Linked DNA regions of Homo sapiens. The protein of the gene in region 4 purifies or fractionates together with the protein of the main gene of each other region. This does not show direct contact. Each region holds a gene or a part of one and is shown on either strand. Other genes may lie near its edges.

The links.
Region 1: the proteins of MLKL (region 4) and PARP16 purify together in Homo sapiens (affinity purification with mass spectrometry; one large-scale study listed by BioGRID and IntAct). This does not show direct contact.
Region 2: the proteins of MLKL (region 4) and SLC30A6 purify together in Homo sapiens (affinity purification with mass spectrometry, with the first as the bait; one large-scale study listed by BioGRID). This does not show direct contact.
Region 3: the proteins of MLKL (region 4) and LRCH3 purify together in Homo sapiens (affinity purification with mass spectrometry; one large-scale study listed by BioGRID and IntAct). This does not show direct contact.

The regions. Positions count from the first base shown.
Region 1 is NC_000015.10:65,280,384-65,283,883, forward strand, and holds part of PARP16 (protein mono-ADP-ribosyltransferase PARP16), read right to left. Parts: intron 1-3,500. UniProt on the Homo sapiens protein: Intracellular mono-ADP-ribosyltransferase that plays a role in different processes, such as protein translation and unfolded protein response (UPR), through the mono-ADP-ribosylation of proteins involved in those processes.
Region 2 is NC_000002.12:32,221,364-32,224,863, reverse strand, and holds the end of SLC30A6 (zinc transporter 6), read right to left. Parts: 3' UTR 485-3,500; downstream 1-484. Other genes in the region: NLRC4 (NLR family CARD domain-containing protein 4), read left to right, coding at 99-391. UniProt on the Homo sapiens protein: Has probably no intrinsic transporter activity but together with SLC30A5 forms a functional zinc ion:proton antiporter heterodimer, mediating zinc entry into the lumen of organelles along the secretory pathway.
Region 3 is NC_000003.12:197,829,254-197,832,753, reverse strand, and holds part of LRCH3 (DISP complex protein LRCH3), read right to left. Parts: intron 3,191-3,500; coding exon 3,081-3,190; intron 1,990-3,080; exon of another isoform or gene 1,985-1,989; coding exon 1,891-1,984; exon of another isoform or gene 1,857-1,890; intron 1,718-1,856; exon of another isoform or gene 1,531-1,717; intron 1,480-1,530; exon of another isoform or gene 1,400-1,479; intron 558-1,399; coding exon 437-557; intron 1-436. UniProt on the Homo sapiens protein: As part of the DISP complex, may regulate the association of septins with actin and thereby regulate the actin cytoskeleton.
Region 4 is NC_000016.10:74,690,863-74,694,362, reverse strand, and holds part of MLKL (mixed lineage kinase domain-like protein), read left to right. Parts: intron 1-1,946; coding exon 1,947-2,021; intron 2,022-2,899; coding exon 2,900-3,086; intron 3,087-3,500. UniProt on the Homo sapiens protein: Pseudokinase that plays a key role in TNF-induced necroptosis, a programmed cell death process. Does not have protein kinase activity.

The DNA of each region.
Region 1 (3,500 bases), on a different chromosome or scaffold from region 4:
CCAAGATCACGCCACTGCACTCCAAACTGGGCAACAGAGCAAGAACTCGTCTCAAAAAAAAAAAAAAAAAAAATTAGCCATGGACCAGCAATTTCACCTCTCAGAATGTATCCAAGAAGACAACAACAGATATAAACAATGATTAATGTAGAAGGATGTTTATCAAAGTATTATTTATAAAAGCAAAATTTTAAAATTATAAAGAAACCCAAAAGAAGGACTCCTAACTGCTAGGGAGTGGAGGCACAGAATAAGGTGGAAATTTCACGTGTATCTTAAAGGATGAGAGGGAGTTTGCTTCAACAAAGATGGAAATGGCATCAGGAGGGCTCAGGACAGAGAGGAGCTTATATGCGCTTTAACCCAGACACTGGGGAGTCATGGTGTCTAGACAGTGCAAGCCAGAAACCAGAAAGAGGGAGGAAAAAAAAGAGAAAGACTCCTTACTCCTCCAGGACCAGGAGGCCCAATTAGAGCAGTTTGGCACCCCAAATGAGAACAGGGTAAGCTTCATGCAGTGCTTTTCAGACTTCACTATGTGTACAAATTGCCCAGATTTGTTAAAATGCAGATCCTGACTGGATAGGTCTGAGGCAGGACCTGCTTTTCTAATGAGCACCCAGGTGAGGCTCATGTTGCTGGTCCTCAACCACACTAAGCAGCGAGGGCCTGGAGCTAACACAAAGAAGCCATTCCCACACACTTCCCACCCCCAGAAAGGGTCTACAGGCTAATGGAGAACCAGAACATGCTATTTCGGGAGGGAAAACAGAACAAAAAACTGTACAGCTGCGACTGTGTCAAGTGACAAACCTGAAGTTCGGAGGCCAATGGTTAAGGGGTACAGGGAATCCCAAGAATGTTACAGGTTCTCTCATCCAACCCTGGTCCCAAAAAGCAAGGTGAGAAATCCTGAGCCTGGGTATTCAGCACACGCACAATGTGATTCCTCAAACATTTGATAAGTACTTCCCAGGCCAGGCACTGGAAATACCAAGAGCTCCCAGTGTAAAATCAGAGAGCTGGCCAGGCACGGTGGCTCATGCCTGTAATCCCAGCAGTTTGGGAGGCCGAGGAGGGCGAATCACCTGAGGTCAGGAGTTCAAAACCAGCCTTGACCAACATGGTGAAACCCTATCTCTACTAAAAATACAAAAATTAGCTGGGCGTCATGGCATCTGCCTGTAATCCCAACTACTAGGGAGACTGAGGCAGGAGAATCGCTTGAACCCAGGAGGCAGAGGTTGCAGTGAGCCGAGACCGCGCCATTGCACTCCAGCCTGGGCAACAAGAGGGAAACTCCATCTCAAAAAAAAAAAAAAAATCAGAGAGCTTATCAGCACGAAAATGGTCTCAAAACAAGACACCTCAGGGATAATTTGGGACTTTGAGGACAGTGGTAAGATAAGGCTAGATCAGACCTAAAGCCAAGAGCTTGGTTCAGCAGTGGGGAGTTCTCAGGAAATCACCAATCAATAAAGTAATTTAAGGCACAGGTCTAATTTTTGGAAACTGCAACCCTTGTGTTATAGGTGTGTAATAACACCTCACAGTGTGGACAAAGATTTAAATGACTGAAAATGGTAAACTTTCACATTACTTCCTAGTGCTTTTAGCTGAACAAATGAAAGTGAGAGACTTTTTTTGAGACAGGGTCCCACTTTGTCACCCAGAATGGAGTGCAGTGGCACAATCACGGCCCACTACAGCCTTGACCTCCTGGTTCAGGTGAACCTCCGACCTCAGCCTCCCAAGTAGCTGGGACTACAGGCGTGCACCACCACACAGGCTAATTTTTTGTAATCTTTTTATAAAGACAGGGTTTCGCCATGTTGCCCAGGCTGCTTTCAAACTCCTGGACTCAAATGACCCGCCCCAGCCTCCCAGAGGGCTGGGATTACAGGTGTGAACCACCGTGCCCAGCCAAGAGACTTTTTAACAGCTCCATACTTTCCTTCTTCAGGTAACTACAAAATGATCTAGCCAGTCCATTCCAGACCTGATTCCCTTTTCTTTAAAAGTTAGACTTTGATTCAGATACAGATCCAGATGCCCAGTTCTCTGCATCATTTCAGTAACTCATGTGACGTGGCAAAACGAGGCCTAAAGTGTGTGTTTATCTAAGAATGTATGCATGTCCCCAGAAATGGTGCCAGGCCCCACCTGTGAGCAGTCTTGCTGCTGACGGCCATGCCTACAGACAGCCAAGAATCTATGTAGTCTGGGCTATTTTCCTCAACAATGGTGCCCTATAAGGAATATGGCAACAGAAATGGATGGTAAGAATGCGTGTTTCTCCAGTAGCCCTCAAGAGAAAGGGTAACTATCTGGGACTGGTACAATAAACCCCATGGGAGGGGCAGTCTGTCTCTATAGAGGAGGTGGCTTTTTGGGGCAACCTACGTTGCTGATGCTCTCTTAAGGGATTACAAGTGGGGCAAGGGAGAAGGGGGAGGATGGGCCCCAAACAGAGCAATTGATACCTTTGCAGAGGGGTGAGGGATAGAGTGAGATCTATCAGGGGCACTTTTACTTTACTGGTATCATTTGAATTTTTTATAATGAGAATATATTCAAACATTACCTGCATAATTAAAAATAAATTTTAAAAAGCATGATCAAAACAACTCCACAAGCCCCTTTGCATGTATCCCATATTCACCAAACAAACCTGATTGCATTCGCCAAGACCTTCCAGCAGAAAGAAAATAAGTTCCAGATTCTAGTCCACTTAGAGATATGTTTCTTGGTAAAAATTAAAGCTGCACTGTGGCCAAGTGCAGTGGCTCAAGCCTGTAATCCCAGCACTTTGGAAGGCTGAGGTGGGAGAATTGCTTGCGCCCAGGAGTTCAAGACCAGTCTGGACAACGTTGTGAGACCCCATCTCAATTTTTTTTTTTAAAAAAAGCTGCATTGTGAGTTTGATCCCTCTGACCCCAAACACTCCTCCCAAACAGGTCCCTCTCTCACCCTGCCACCACAGGTGTCTTTCTGGATCTCACCTCTATACCCTCCCCTGCCCAAGGATAAAAATCTCCACAACTTAGCAGGGCATGTGTAGCCTTGCATGCTCCATAGGCTGGCCTCATCTCTTCCTGTTCCCCACAACAGTCACACTAAATCACAGTCTTGTCCTTCTCTGTAAGCTCACACCTCCTGGCTGACCATCCTGCTACTCCTCCTGGAATACTCTTTCCCTCTTCTCTGCTCTTGAAGTTCTGCCTTGGGACTTGGCAAGGCATCAGCCTCCACCCCTAGATGGTGTTCCCTGAGCCTGGCCCAAAGCTGAGAGCTAGGGGGTGTCCTTGCTCTGGGCTTCCATGTTGTACGGCGCTTACCTAGTATGAGAGGTTAACACTGTTAACCTCTCCACGGGTTAATCCTGTATCCTTAGCACCTGTCCCATAGCAAACACTCCATAAGTATCTGTTGCCAAAACTGAATGAAGTTTCGTACCCAAGGTCCTGATACACCACACTCAGAAAATTGAGTATCTGAAC
Region 2 (3,500 bases), on a different chromosome or scaffold from region 4:
GAGTGAAAAAAAAGTATGTAAAATAAATGTAGAACCTATTTCTCTTTTTTTTTAAAAAAAATTTTTCTTCCAACTAATATACTTATTTCTTTACCCAGGTGCATTTTTTGGAAAGAACCCTCTGAAAAACTTCCAGCAGTTGAATTTGGCGGGAAATCGTGTGAGCAGTGATGGATGGCTTGCCTTCATGGGTGTATTTGAGAATCTTAAGCAATTAGTGTTTTTTGACTTTAGTACTAAAGAATTTCTACCTGATCCAGCATTAGTCAGAAAACTTAGCCAAGTGTTATCCAAGTTAACTTTTCTGCAAGAAGCTAGGCTTGTTGGGTGGCAATTTGATGATGATGATCTCAGTGTTATTACAGGTGCTTTTAAACTAGTAACTGCTTAAATAAAGTGTACTCGAAGCCAGTAAGTGCTCTGGGACCTCATTATTTTAAGCCTGGTAGTTAAAAAAAATCTTGCAAAAGGATGCCAAAGAAGATAAGGACGTGGAAAGAAGTTTAATTTGATGATTAAAAACATGCAACAGTTTTGTGTCTTAGCTCTCCTACTAGGATTATCGGCGCCTTGAAGGAATTCTCATTCATCTTTGTGTTACCTTTGGTCTGGGTCACACCAACTGGTATACTGAATGCATATTAACTTAGTATAGTGCCTGGCATGTAAGAGATTCTCAACAATATTCTCAATAAATATTCGCTGAATATGAGATAAATTATTAATAGCTACTGAATAAAGAAAGATTATTTAAAACCAGAGAGGAAACTCCATATATGTTCTTTAATCCAAACAGTTTAATTCAAGCAATCTGGAATATAAAAAGCACTTTCTGATATTAGAAGGAGATCAGACTCCCAAAAAAGATCAGCATTCTTTAGTCAAGCAAAACTTGGAAGTTTACAAACAGCTAAATCAGAAGCTTGAAATTCAGGTCCTCTCCAGTACCTGCTACATTATATGTAATTCCAAACATGACTTCAGAGATTAAAGAAGAAAGGGAAGATGTTTCCCATTCTTTTGTACCCTATATAAACTAAGGGTACCCTGCCCTAATCTTTTTTCCAACACTTCCCCAAATAACCCTTCCTTACAAAGAAAGAAGTCTAAGAGAACTCTCTCATCTAAATATATTTAAGTAGAGGCAAGCCTGAAAAAAACACAAAAACCTAAATGGTGTTAGGCTGTGGTTCACCTATTCTCATGGCACCTCAAATTAATGGCTTGGGTGTTGGTGTAGGTAACGCTTGGCCTGTATGTTGAGGTAGTCACTAGATAAAATTCTGGGCACAACATCCGTTTAGCAATTGGGCATACATTCTACAGATTTAGCCATAACGTTTTGAAGCTGATTATTTTACAGATCAACTAATTAATTCCTCTCCCTAACTTTACAGATGAGAAAGCTCAGATGATTTGCCCATGGGTTATAAAACTACTTCCTTACACAGTGGCAGCATCAGAACTGGAATTCAGATCTCTTGCCTCCTAGGCAGTGTTTTTCCTATTATAATATGGTGACTTCGTAAAGCAGGGTTAATTACATTCCACAAAGCTTACATCCTAATCACAAACAATGGGACAAATATTTAAATTGAACTTCTTTCTCTGTCTAGCTTCAAGTGATTCTGTGGCAAGATTTACTAGTAAGGCTGCTGCCTATAGGCCTATGCTGGGCAAGTTCCTTATTTTCATATCCAGAAGTTAGTCAGAGCTTGGCAAATAAGACTTCTCTATATAATAATGCCTGGCCCAATGTCCCCTGTAACATCTTACATGCAGGACGTAGGGCCAATTCTTTCATAACCCACAGGCAACTGTGAGTGTCCTTTCTCAAATAGTGAAGGTAGGTATTAAAGCACCTTTGGTGGGACAGATGCACAGGTGTTGCCTCTGAATTGGTGTTGAGGAAGTAGGCATAAAACCTCACACAGAACTGTGTTTGGTACCTGAACACTTTAAAATCCTATGGGGATGGGGAAGACATGCATGGGGTGGCAGCACATACCTCTTAACCATAACTCAGGACACGGCAGTTCAGATTTCATGCATGACCCTAATTCATATTTAGTTGAGATCAATGGAGGAAGAAGAATCATCCTGTAATAGTAGACCAATAACAGATACAGTAATAGTTGGAAAACATAAGATAAAGGCCAAGGAACAGGTTGCCTTATTACATTTTACGAAGTATCATTTTCCCCAGTAGTCAAGGTAGTGTAGGCTGTATTTCTTTAGCAGGTCACATGCCTGAACAGGGGTTGCAGATGCCAAAGACAATGACCAACTCCTCACTAAGAAAAAGGTATTTAGGACATGGTCACTTATTACCACAGATGACAATTCTGCTTGACAGAGATGGCTTCTTGGATGTTTTTAATCCACAGTGAAGAAAAAGGATTTCAAAGTGCTGCTCCTATTTGAAAGTGAATGAGTTGACTGAAGAAACTGTTGCAAAAGAAAAACAAAAATCTTCTCTAGATAGCTGGCTGATGGCTGGGAAAGTCATAAATCTCCAGGAGCATTGGATTCCAGGAAAGTTAAGTCCATTCTCAAAATCCCATTTTAAAACTGTTATGGAATGCATAATAAAATAAAACAATAAAAAACCCTCCTAGGTCATGTGTGACTGCTGCTTGTTATACTTTTTGGAAGTAATACTAGCCATGTTAGAAAGTCCTTAAACTCTGCATTTGGAAAACAACTAAAAAATAACATAATCTATGTAATTCTCACATTTCATCACAGTTAACAATTTCCCATTTTTGACAAAGCAAAACAAAAAGAAACTGCCCACTGCAGACCTAACAATGCTGTATTCTATAATCTAAGGTCCATTATGCTTTGGTAAAATTATATATGCTCAAATTCTTTGTGCAACTTGAAAAGACATCAAATTCCATATTATGTATGGAACTCCATGTGTTTTGGTAATATATCTGATATATTTTGTTAATAAAATAAGAAATTAAAAAGCCAATGAATGAAAATGTGTCAGGAAAGATAAATTCATTATGTCAGTATTTGATTAAATGTAACATAGAAAATTGGGATTCTTTCACTGCATATCACCAAAAGTTGGGTAGTCACTTAATCAAAATAAAACACTGAGAACCATGGACTATTTACAAATGTACTAAAATTTTTAAAGGAGAGAAACTTTAACAAAAATCTTGATAATTAAAAATTCAAATTGTGCTAGATAGAATGTATTCCAAAATTTCTGCTAAAAATTTTTGCTTTTAGTTTGTAAGACATAATTCAGGAGAACCTCAAAGAAAAATTTAGCAATTAAGTTTGGAAAAGCTATAAAAGAGACTTTTACTTTTTGAACAGACATTTTTCCCTTTCCCAAAATGTGTATTATTCAAGAAGCATATTTATAAATTTCATTAAAGAAAATATCGGCCAGGTGCGGTGGCTCACACCTAATCCCAGCACTTTGGGAGGCTAAGGTGGGTGGATCATGAGGTCAGGAGTTCAAGACCAGCCTGGCCAAC
Region 3 (3,500 bases), on a different chromosome or scaffold from region 4:
GATGACTTTGAAGAGCATCTGACAATTCCAGGTGAAGAAAAGGTAAACACTGAAAAAAAAAAAAAAAAGGACTAAATTCCTAAAAGAGATCAAATAATGACCACAGCAAGAATCTTAAAAAGGGAGAATGTTACTTCAAAAGGTCGTGATTAAATCCAGATTAACAAAGATCTGCTCCAGGTGTACTGTCTCTAATAAAGTTTCCTCCCAAAATAAAAACAAGGGAGAAATAGTGTATTTTAACTCTGACTGAAACCAGAAATCATAGTTTCATCCCAATGGAAAATAGTATTTTTCAATCATATATGAAAAGAAGTCTTTAAAAGAAGAGTGAAGAAGCTATAGATACACCAACAAAAGGAGTGGGTATGAAAAAGACAACTTTAAAAAGTTAAATGGTTGCAAACACTTTAGCTGTCACCGGAATTATGTTTACCTCCGCCGTTTGTTACTACCAAACTGCCGCGGTTCTCTTGGTACTGGCTTTCTCTTCGTAGTCTTTGTTCTTTAGTAATCTCTGCTACTCGAAGAGGCAGATCTGAAAATTCATCTGTAGGCTTAAAAAAGAAGCAGAAACATTAAAAACAATCATTTTAGAGCCTGGCAGATCATGCCTGTAATCCATGCGCTTTGGGAGACCAAAGCAGGAGGATCACTTGAGGCCAGGAGTAAATTAGCTAGATGTGCTCACACATGCCTGTAATCCTAATACTTGGGATGTTGAGGCGAGACGATCGCTTCAGCCCAGGAGTTCGAGGCTGCAATGAGACAGGATTCCACCACTGCACTCCAGCCTGTGCGACAAAGCGAGATCCTATTTCAAAAAAATAAAAATCTGGTCTGGAGTGGTGGCTGATGCCTATAATCCCAACACTTTGGGAGACCAAGATGGGAATGACAAGCCCAGGAGTTTGAGACTAGCCTGGGCAATATAGGGAGAGCATGTCTCTAAAAAAAAATTTTTTTTAATTAGCCAGGCATGGTGGCATAAGCCTGTAGTCCCAGCTACTCAGGAGGTTTAGGTGGGAGGACTGCTTGAGCCATGGTCGTGCCACTGCACTCCAGCCTGGGTGAAAGAGCAAGACTCTGTCTCAAAAAATATAAAAGATTCATGACTCCATAAATTATATATATATAGATTTAAAATATCTACATATATATCTGTATTGATACAGCCACATTTATGAACCCACCCACCAAGACATACAAACACAAGTAATTCCAAATTTCAAATGGGATGTGGTCTAAAATTAATTTGGTTTCAATTCACAGTAAAACAATGTTATAAATAGTAGGTTATCAGTCTTGCTAACAAAAGTTTACTTAATAACTTAATGCATAGCTAAAATATTACACATTAGTAATTTTTATTTATTTTTTTACTTTTTTTCTTCTGTAGACCTCTGTGGACACAGTAATTTTTAAGAGCAGAAAACATAATATCAATAATTTAAAAACGAGAAAAACGACAGAATTAGCCAGGAAGTTATTCCTCTTGAGCACATGAATACTCTTTACTAAGGTCCTTGTCTCTACCCATCAGCCGAAAGTCCTACTTGTTTTCTCACCATCTAGCACCTCTGCTCGAGATTACCCCCCACCTCAGATTGTAGGCTTCAGTTTCAACTGGCTCAGCTCCTGTTTGCCTTTCTATGATATGAAACTATTTCCATGAGGCAATGAGGAAACAGGCGGAAATCCACGTGACAGAAAGCCGGTAAGGACGCAGAATGCCAATTCTGCTGGAGAGGGTGGGAATCTTGCCTCCACCTTGACTTTTCTGTATTTTATGTAGTGAGAAACTGAATCCAGTTAAGACGCTTTTCATTTTCATCATTCTGTTTTCTCTTAATCAGGTGTTATAACACACGGAACATAAAAAACACTTACTTCATTCCCTGACCATCTCTTATCACCACTGTCCACACTATTGAAGCCTGAATCAAGGGCTCCATAAGGGCGACTTGAGTACAGTTCTTCATGGCTGCCGAAAAGAGACTCTGTTACTGCAAAGTTTGTTATTTTAACAATTAAAATTTGAAATTAAACAGATCAATTTTCTAAAAAACAAGAAATGTGGCAGTCACTTAACTATTAGAACTAAATGGGCTTTAATTTTTTAATATGAAAAATTCCAAATAGAAACAAAGCAAACAGAATAGCATGAGACCTCATGTACTCATTATTATCCAGCTTCAAAACAATCACACCTCTGCAATTCTTGTTCGTCCAATGAGGCGAGTTTACTAGGACTGTGCTTTTAAGCAAAATTTGAGAGGTTCAAGAGAAGGCCTGAGAGGTTCTCTTTTGAGTAAAGTCCATAAACATTACTTCACTTTGACTGAAACATCTATCCTGCTTGTTTAAAGGCCTAAGAATTTAATTCTTGCTACTTAAGACTGCTCCATACTCAGGAGGCTGAGGTGGGAGGAATGCTTGAGCTCAGGAGTTTGAGACCAGGCTGGGCAACATAGTAAGACCTTGTTTCAAAAAAAAGAGATTGTTCCAGATGGTTGGGACTGCCAAGCAGATGACCTTATAAGTCACAGGCTGTGTAGCTGAGGGACTCATAGATTAAAAGATCCTGAAGTGATGTTAATGGTCAACAAATCCAACTCTTGACTCCTTGTAGAAAAAATGAAACTCAAAAAGTAGGAATGACTTGCCTTCGGCTAGTTACCTCAGCAGCAGAGCTAAAGTTAGCGTTCAAGTCACTCAGACCAGTAGTTTTCAACTGGAGGGCCCCAAGGTGACATTTGGAGACTTTGCGAGGGTACTACTGGCATCTATCTAATGGGCAGACACCAAGGATGCTGGTAAATGTCTTACAATGTACAGGACAGCCCATCACAACAAAGAATTATCTGATCTAAAATGTCAACAGTGCCAAGGTTGAGAAACCCTTAGAACTAGACTTTGCCAGATCTAGGTAATCAACTTTACAATACAAGCATTCTGAGAATAACAGTGTTAAAACAGGTTATTTCCCTTTAGTCAAACATTCAGGCAAATTTAAGTATCCATTTTATTTGATTCTCTGTACAAAAAATATGATAGATAAAGGGACAGAATATACTTACCAGGAGCCAAAACCCAACGGTCTCCTATCATAATCCGGCAGATCTGGAGCAATCTTACAAGCTTGTATGTTCAGGTATTTAAATATGTGGACTTTGCCTTTTATACATATCTAAATAAAGTCACACAGATGTAGCCAAATTATTACTCATCTGAAGTATGCTCCTTTTTATCATATCAACATTTTATGTAACATACATTGGGAAAGGGAGGCATTTCTATCAAGTACATACAGTAATATTTAAAAACTAATAAATTATATTATTTGGTTAAGTGTTATTTTAGGTGTTTAACTGGTAAATATGTTTTCATTTTCTAGTCACTAATACATTTCAGTAATATATAAATAAATAACTTTTGATTATACTGTTCAAATACCAAGTAAACTTATCACACTGACTAGTTTGCATAGTCAGAGATTT
Region 4 (3,500 bases):
CCCCTGTTTCCCTTTCTGAGGACATGAGACCTTCAGTACTAAAACTGGGGAAGTCTGATGGAAACCATATAGACAAAATGATAATCTCATCCATTGTTGGTAGGATATTTGTGCAACCTTTATCAAAATCTGAGATACAATCACACAATCTACCAGTTTCTTGAATACCCTTCTGGAGATTTAAGTATATATATTTTATTGTTGTTGTCACACAGTCAGCATCATGCCAAGCACATTGTTCTATTTCTTCTTTTCTCATTAAATAATCTTAAATATCCTCCCATGTAAATATCCATTGAATTATATAGCTTGTTTTCCTACTTGGCATCTACCCTACTGTTTTGTTTTGTTTTATGATCATACTAGCAGCACACAAATTCAAAAACAACCCAATACATACACCCATCATTTTTTCCCATTTTTTGTGATAAAATATACATAACATAAAATTTACCATTTCGGCCAGGCGGGGTGGCTCACGCCTGTAATCCCAGCACTTTGGGAGGCCGAGGCGGGCGGATCATGAGGTCAGGAGATTGAGACCATCCTGGCTAACACGGTGAAACCCCGTCTCTACTGAAAATACAAAAAATTAGACGGGCGAGGTGGTGGGCGCCTGTAGTCCCAGCTACTCGGGAGGCTGAGGCGGGGGAATGGCGTGAACCCCGCGGGGCGGAGCCTGCAGTGAGCTGAGATCGCTCCACTGCACTCCAGCCTGGGCGACAGAGAGATTCCGTCTCAAAAAAAAAAAAAAAAAAATTTACCATTTCAACCATTTTTAGATGCCAGTTCAGTGGCATCAAGTATATTCACATGGTTCTGAAACCATCGCGACCATCCATCACCAGAACTTTTTTTTTCTTTTCTTTCTTTCTTTCTTTCTTTTTTCTTTTCTTTTTTTTTTTTTTTGAGACAGAGTCTTGCTGGAGTGCAGTGACACGATCTTGGCTCACTGCAACCTCTGCTTCCTGGGTTCAAGTGATTCTTGTGCCTCAGTCACCCCAGTAGTTGGGATTACAGGCATGTGCCACCACACCCGGCTAATTTTTGTATTTTTAGTAGAGACGGGGTTTCACTATCTCTACTGACCAGTTTGGCCAGGCTGGTCTCAAACTCCTGACCTCAAGTGATCTGCCTGACTCGGCCTCCCAAAGTGCTAGGATTACAGGCATGAGCCACCACGCCTGGCCTATTTCAAGATATCTTTATGAGAAATTCCCAGAAGTGGAATTGCTAGGTAAAATCACTAGGTCAAAGACTGTAGGCATTTCAAATTTTGATAGAAGTTGCACAGATATTACTTCTACCAACTATGCATGAGTTATCTGCTTCTCTATACTTTTCCCATAAGAGACTTTCCCACTTTTAGTAGTCAGGGTTTCATGTCCCCAGAGCTCCTCAGTCCTGGGCAGACAGGGATGGCTGACCACTGTAAATAGTGTGTTATAAATTTTCAAACATGTTTCTGAGTATATAAATCAGGATTGATTTGATTATGCTGTGGTTTAAAAAACAACAACTCAGTGTTCTAAAGAAACAAGTTTATTTCTCATTCAGGCAAAGTCCAGGGGACTCTCCAAGGTGAATGTCCTCCTTCCAGGATACTTTCAATAGTATAGCACTTCTGCGTTGACGCAAACTTTCCTCACTTCCAAAGCAGCCAGGTTGGAACCTTATGCAGAGTCAGTTAAATGCTCCCTCTGGGAAGTGACAGACATCTCTTTTCTTCATTTCTTAGCCAAAGCAAGTTACCCAGCCATGCTTTAATGCATTTCCTATGTGCTCAGAAGTAGAAATCTGAATATTGGTGATCAGTAGTAATCCCTACCATAATGAATATGATAGGTAAAAAATGATATCTCAACAGTTTTAATTAGCATTTTAGTTTTGATTGGCGTGTGATTTTAATATCTATTTTGAGCATATACTGCCCTTTTTTCCTGCAGATAATGAAAAAATAGAAGCTTCACTGAGACGATTAGAAATCAACATGAAAGAAATCAAGGAAACTTTGAGGCAGTGTAAGTTATCATGTGCCCTGCTGTTTCTGATGGCCCCCAAACTAGAAGTCATCAGTTTACTGGGACCCCAGCCTCCCGCTACCCCTGCATTTGTCCATTTTCTGTGCTGGATGGCTGGAAGCAGCCCACAGGTTTGGGGATCCATTCATGGCTAGCCCAGGCTTCTGTCCATGGAATAACATGTGGAGAGAGCTTCTTGACCAGTAAGATACCTTCTAGCAGCTGTCAAAGTACTTAAAAACCTCTATGAATAGAATCAAAGCTTCAGTTCAGTTGCTGAATTTCCAAGAAGAAATTCAAATCAAATTTAAAATGCCCACTCATTCATTCATTCAACAAAACTGTGAGTATCTGGTTTATGCCAGAGGCCATGCAAAGAGGTAACTAAGATGCAGAGAAGGACACTGCCTTCCAGGAGCTCACGGGGTGGAGGAGGAAAGAGGAAAGACAGACAGTGAACACACAACAGCAAGGTTACTGAGCTTGAACTATGTCCCTAACTACTAGATCTGAAATGACTACGCCAGATGCCAGATGCTCAAGTGCCAAGCTCTGGGTAACAGGAATAGACATCCTTCCAGGATGAGAGAGATGAGTCTGGATGAGGGTTAAGGCTGGAGGGACAGGCGGGATTTGAAGAGGAGGGAAAGGAAGTGGATGACACATTCTGTTAACTGTCCAGCTGTGTCTCTACTGGTCACTCAGAGGCACGGGAGCCGCTCCCTTGGGCTGAGTCCATCAGAAGCCCCAGCCACCACCAGCTCTGGTTCATGTAGTAGAGCTTCCCACTCACACATCACAAATATGCCACCTCCCTTAGGACCCCTTCCTCTGCTCATTGACTCTTTTGTCTTCTTTCCTCTCGGGGGTGAGGTCAGATTTACCACCAAAATGCATGCAGGAGATCCCGCAAGAGCAAATCAAGGAGATCAAGAAGGAGCAGCTTTCAGGATCCCCGTGGATTCTGCTAAGGGAAAATGAAGTCAGCACACTTTATAAAGGAGAATACCACAGAGCTCCAGTGGCCATAAAAGTATTCAAAAAACTCCAGGCTGGCAGCATTGCGTAAGTTGTTTTGTGTGGTTCTCTCGTGTGTACCAATACTTACTCTAACTCTCCAAGGAGAGAGGGATATCGTCTCCATTTTTAGATGAGGAAGCCTGGGCCCTAAAGGGTTAAATTATGTGCTCTCCACTGTTAAGGAGCAGAGTCTTGACTTAAATACATCTTTCCACCTCAGTTCTAGGTCTTCTCTCCTTTGTCCACATATATATTTAAAAAAAAAAAACAACTTTCCCTTCCAACCTTGTTTCCCAGTTGCTCATCCCCTCCACAGACAGTAGTTCTAGTGTGTTTTGTTTGTATGTGTTCTTGTAAAATGTATGCATACATTTTTCATGTTCACAACTGGTAGAGTTACGTGTCTGTTGCCTCCTTTCCTCACTTTTTTCACTCAACATCATGAAACGTGTTCCATAT